2 separate regions of the Homo sapiens genome follow, and region 2 is linked to region 1. Evidence: fine-mapped expression QTL. A gene starts in region 1. The other region holds a variant in brackets. All regions are shown on one strand. Distances are from middle to middle.

The links.
Region 2: its variant is fine-mapped to the expression of CETN3 in thyroid (GTEx, PIP 0.95).

Annotation. Positions count from the first base shown.
Region 1 is chr5:90,408,505-90,411,423 of GRCh38, reverse strand. CETN3 (centrin 3) reads left to right here and starts at 1,668. Exons shown (of 5, transcript NM_004365.4): 1 at 1,668-1,779. The coding sequence starts at 1,763. LOC731157 (a long non-coding RNA gene) reads right to left here and starts at 1,424. Exons shown (of 2, transcript NR_105024.1): 1 at 1,120-1,424; 2 at 755-924. RefSeq lists an enhancer at 1,699-1,898.
Region 2 is chr5:89,708,645-89,711,563 of GRCh38, reverse strand. The region is part of intron 1 of LINC02161 (long intergenic non-protein coding RNA 2161); the gene reads right to left. Among named protein-coding and RNA genes, the nearest start is that of LINC02161, 130 kb to the right of the region's middle. The variant T/C (reference allele first, on the strand shown) is at 1,747.

The sequences.
Region 1 (2,919 bases):
TTAATAATTTTTAAACCTCCCTTTTATTAAATTACCAACCTTACTAGTGGCACTATTCCTTTTCTTGTTACACTTCCTATAAGTCTTTGAATTTCACTGGTATTGCCAAAAACCAGCTTTATACTAGATTATGAGTACTTTATCAATTTTACCAATTTCCTTTTAAAACACTGTTCTCAAACTTTATCTTTACTAATTTCCTCTTCCTAATTTCAATTATACAATTTGTTCTTCGTTTCTAACATCTTCAAATAAATGCTTGGCCTATTTTTATTCTTTCTTATTTAAAATAATGTTCTCCTATAACTTGGTCTGTATCTTAAAATTTTAACATATAGTTTTTTTCAATATCATTATGTTCTAGTAACTACAATTTCTCTTTCCTTTTAGACTCAAAGGTGATTTATAAAGGTACTTTAAAATTTAAAATACGAACAAAATAAAAGTTCCACTTTTGTTTTTTAGGGGTGCTATCCCTTAGCTAATTTTTAGCTTATTCTATCATACTATCTTTCCTTGTGCAAATTTAGCCCATCCTTCTAGGTCTAACGTTTATGTCACCTCCTTTAAGAAGCATATCTTGTGTTCTCTCCCTTCTCTAAAATTTTATATACATCCCTTAAACATATAATGTTTATATATTCTCCGCCTTCAACTCCCATCCTCAGGCTATTTTATTCACGTTTATGAGATTTGCTGTTTAGCTCAGTATTTTGTGGATTTTCAAAAGATTCCACTCAATTTACCGAGCACCTACGCACCAGACATTTTATTAGGTACAAGGAAAAGCGTTAAATAGATATAATCACGGCCTCCAAGAAATTGAACCTAGTAAGAGACACGAATAAGCAGACATTCAAGTGAGCTTTAGGAGACTTGGTTTGGTAGTGAAGACAGTCTCATGTGTGTTAACAGCTTACAGCACTGAAAAATAAGAGACAGAAGGGAACAAATCCGTTTCAAACAGTTCAAAGGAGGAAAGAGAGGGAAAGGTGGTTTAGATACAGCTAAATCATAAATAGCCTGATAATCTAACCCTGTGATAATCCAAGTACAGCCACAGCACCTGCCTCAGAATCACTTGGAAGGCTTGTGAGGAGTAAAAACGCAGATTCATACCTACTGAAATTAGAATGGAGAAACGGACATTTAAGTCTGCATTTTAAACACATTCCCCAGGTACTGAGGCCATTCCAAGTTTTAGAACAGAGCACAGCCAATTTTCGCAGACCTTGTTCCTCAAGTACTCCCTCCTTCTAGCCGGAGGGTGGCCTGCAGCATGTCCCTTCCCTTCCCACCGCCGAAGCTGTCCATCCAGTTTCTGAATGGCGGCCCACAGACCGCACGGCTTTACGAGAGAGGAACACAGCGCCCACCCGCCAAACAGCCACACAGGGATCGGAGGCCGGACCCGCAAAGGATTCGGGGAAAAACGCATCGAGCCAATCCGAAGGGCGAGAGCGGCCCTAGATTGGGGGGGCGGGGGGGCGTTAGGAGGTGGGCGGGGCACAGAAAAAAAATTTTTTTTTCCTTGATTGACGTAAAACCTACCCAATGAAAATAGAACTGGTAAAGCTTCCGCCCCCTAATAGGCAGAACCATAGCGACATTTCAACCAATCCAGCTCAAAAGTGTCTATGTTGTGGGAGGTCCCTGAGGCCGCTGAGGTCGTTCGTGTCTGTTGAACGGCTGTGGGCGTCTTGCTGCCTTGGGTAGGGGGTTAAAATCGTTCTTGAGAGGAACGTCTCTGTGCGAAGAGATAATGAGTTTAGCTCTGAGGTCGGTAATAAGGAGGCGGCAGTGCTCTCCACACCCCGGAGCGGGGCCCAGGGAGGGTGTGTGTGGAAGGGAGGACGTTTGGGGCCGAGGCGAGGCAGGGGATGTAGTTTGGGACGCGGGAAAGGAGCCTAGGGCAGCCTGCCCGGATCACTCACCCTCTGGGCTCTGATGCCCTGCAGGGAACGAGACCAGTGCATTTCTGCTAAGGAGGTTATTTCTGTCAGCGCGTAGGGCTTTGGACTGCCAGAAGGTTGGGCTTAGTTGCGAGCGAGGTGGGAATGAAATATCGCGAGGCTTCTACTCTTGTTTCTCAGATCAGGTCGCGGACATCCCTTCATTCATCCGTGTGCCTGGTCAGGGCCCCACCTCGGCTGCTCCGCTGCTAATGCAATCACCCACCTATAAATTTTGGAAATAACAAAAACTCTTTCCTCTTCTCCCAGGGCCCTGCTTTACGGTGTAATTGGAGACCCATTTTAGTGACTTTAATTGGCAGTCTGTCTCTTGGATTTCCTAAATTTCTTGCATTTTTTTACCTTTCAGTTCTAACCTCTAACCCTCTGTTGCCCTCTCCCACTATGTAGACGTTGTACCGTAAAACTATCCATACACTTACGACACTCCGAAAATATTCCATGTTCTGCTAAGGGATAATCATGGTACCCTTGGATGGGGTCAGGGGTGGGTCGGTTCTGGACTTGGCCTCCAAAAGTCTCAGGAAGGAAAAGACTGACCCCAGGAATACCCAAGTTTGTGTCAAGTCAGGTCTCATGAAAGGAAGATCTTCCTCAGCTTTGTTATACTGCACCTACTAGTCACTTCCTAGCTTTTTTTTTTTTTTTTTGGAGCTTTCAGAGACCAAAACGACTTTCAAATGCAACTAGATAGGTGTTTTAAGTACAGTCAACTGGTTTGACATGTTAATGTGTTACCGGATTGTGTTTCAAAACTCGTTATTCCAGTGTTGCGGCTCCATTTGAAAATTTGGAGCACATTTAGATGGGCAGCTCTTAAGGAAAACATTTCTGGCTTTAAAATAATTTTTGCTTTTTTTCTTTAAGCGTTTCCAGAGTTTATGAGAAGTTAACCTCCGGTTTACATGTTAAATGAGACAAGACTCATCACATTTTTATATAGAAT
Region 2 (2,919 bases), 700 kb after region 1:
TTTAAGAACAAAAGATACCATGGAGCCTGTGATTTATAAAAAGAAGAATGTACGATATACAGAAAGGAGCAAAGGTGATTGGTAGTACCGTAGGAGACCAGTGGGGAGAGATTTTGAAAGTTTAGACTTTGAGGAGTGTTATTGATTCAATGGTTTATACAACAACAGTGACTGAGGCAATTTAAATTATATCTCCTTGCAAAATAGTTGCTTCTCCACTCTTCACTTTACCCCTTATTCTTCCAACTCTTATTCTTCCTTTGTTACTTTTTTTTTTTTTCTGAGATGGGGTTTCGCTCTTGTTGCCCAGGCTGGAGTGCAATGGAGCAATCTCGTCTCACAGCAACCTCTTGCCTCCCAGGTTCAAGCCATTCTCCTGTCTCAGCCTCCAGAGTAGCTGGGATTAGAAGCATGTGCCACCACCCCCCGGCTAATTTTGTATTTTTAGTAGAGACGGGGTTTCTCCATGTTGGTCAAGTGGGTCTCGAACTCCGGACCTCAGGTGATCCACCCGCCTCGGCCTCCCAAAGTGCTGGGATTACAGGCCCTAAGCCACCGCGCCCAGCCCCTCCTTTGTTACTGTTTTTTTTTTTTTTTTTTTTTTTTTTTGGAGCTGTTTTAGACTGGAGAATATCAGTGGGAAAGGAAAGGTTTATAAAAGACCTGTGAGAATAAAAGCAGAGTGTTGGCAGGGGAAAAGGTGGTGGTGGAAAAAATGCACCAAGACCTTCTAACATAGTATTAGTAAATAGCCTTGACATTTTCAACTTGAGAGGAATGAAGTCACTTAAGCAGATGGGGGGAAATAAAAGTTAGATGAAACTATAAAGTATTCCAGTTACAAAACTGAAAGAAACTATTAGTGGCACTTCTCCTCTCATTTAAACAGCATGAATAAGACTCATTCAAAAATAAATTCTTATCCTGCAAGCTGTTTGTGGAGTCAAGGAACCTATCTCATGCAGGTGTTCCATGTGTGAAATGCCAAAACAGATAATAGAAGCTCCAAACACACCATATTGGAGTTATAGGGAACCCTAAGCCCAAAGACACCATAAGAAAAATAAGAGGTTTTCTAAACAAAAGTATGTTTGTGCTTTAGTGCTGCTTAAAATGATTCCATTTGTTTTAATCAGTTATATTTTTTGTGCCATAAATTTCATATGTATACTAATTATACCAGTAAAATTTGGGTTTAACATTGCAAAGAGAGAACTTGTGGGCTCTGTGAGAAGATATAGCTTTTCCTAAAGGATACAAACTCAACTTCAGGTCATTACAAGTAAAATTTACTGTAGAAATTATTTGCAGAATAGCTTGAGGGCTTCATTTGGCATGCGCATGCATGCAGAGCTCCTGTAGAAGTTATGGAAACTTATAGCTCTATAAATGCCAGCTGTTGAAGGCAGGCTGCTCATAATCTGAGCTGAGGAGGAAAGAAAATGTAGATACAAAGGAGGAAAATAAATGTTTAGGAGCAAAGAGAAACAGCAGGCTACACACTTGGTGCACACAAGACTATGGGAAAAACAGGCTGGATATTTCTTGGGAGATAAGGGGGAAAAAGGAAGAACAGTGATTAAAAATGTCACTGCTGCCAAAGTAGGCTTGGAGGCCCAGGGAACTTCATTTGTATATTTGTCAGATCAATCTCAGTCATTGGTGGTTTTGCAACCATTGTTGTGTATATTATAAATACAATATACACATTTGTTAATACATATATATACATGTAAATAATATATG[T/C]ATACAATATGTACATGTCTATGCACACAATAAATATATACCTATACACACAAGTAAATATATATGCATATATAAAATGGAACATAAATAGGATAGAAAAGACATGTAAAAACTGCCTTTGAGAAACTTGTAGTTTAATTGAGCATATAAGACATGATACACAGCGAATAATTGCACTATCATACATGTATTTCCCATTTGTTATTCAAACCACTTCAACTTTGGTCCTTCCCTACATGCCATTGAAACAGCTCTCCCTGAATTTGCAGCCAAAAATAATATACTTTTTAAAGTTCTCTTTAAAACCTTTAGCATTGCAACATTCAACTGATCTGCAACATTTAACCTTGACCCCTCTTCACATTTTGAAACTTTTCTTTTCTTAGCATTCAATTCACATTCTCTCTCGATTTCCTTTATCTCTCTGGACACATTCAGTCTCCTTCACGACCTTTTCATCCTTTGCTGGTCTGTTAAAAGGTGGTGTTCCCCCAGAAGTCTATTTCTGTAACTCTTCATCATCTGGGTGATTTCACCTGTATCCATGGTTTCACCATCACATAGATGTTGATGATTGAAATTCAGCCTAGAACTTGGTGTTTATATATAACCACCTACAAAATACCCCCTTGGCTATCTTATGCCACTTCAGGAGCATCACGTTCAAAATTGAATTTCTCATTTTTCAGAGCCTTCAATAAACATGCTCCTCTTCTTCCCTCTCTCAGTTGGTGACACCTCCATTCTCTTGAATCATACCCGACTCTATCTACTACCTTGTCATCCCCTACAACGAATCCCCAGGAAATTCTGTCAATTATAATTCCCAAATTACTTTTCCATCAAACATCTTTTCTTCATCAGGCTTCTTATTTTATAGTTTGCTTTTTCCAACAGCCTTATAAGTGATGTTCCTCTTTTCAAAATTCTCCAAATAATTTCTAGACTCATGTGTGTTAAATATGTCTGATTTTGATCCTCCTTTTGAAAATGCTTCAATTTCTTCTAATCATCTTGAGATAAAGCCCTAAATTTTTGAGTGTGGCATGATAAACCATTTTGTAACCTGTCCTCTGCCCACCTATGCAGCCCCATAACTCCACACTTCCTTTTGCCCCTTTAACAGGATAACTCTGGTTGTCTTCAGATTTTGGCTCATGTGCTACTTTTTGC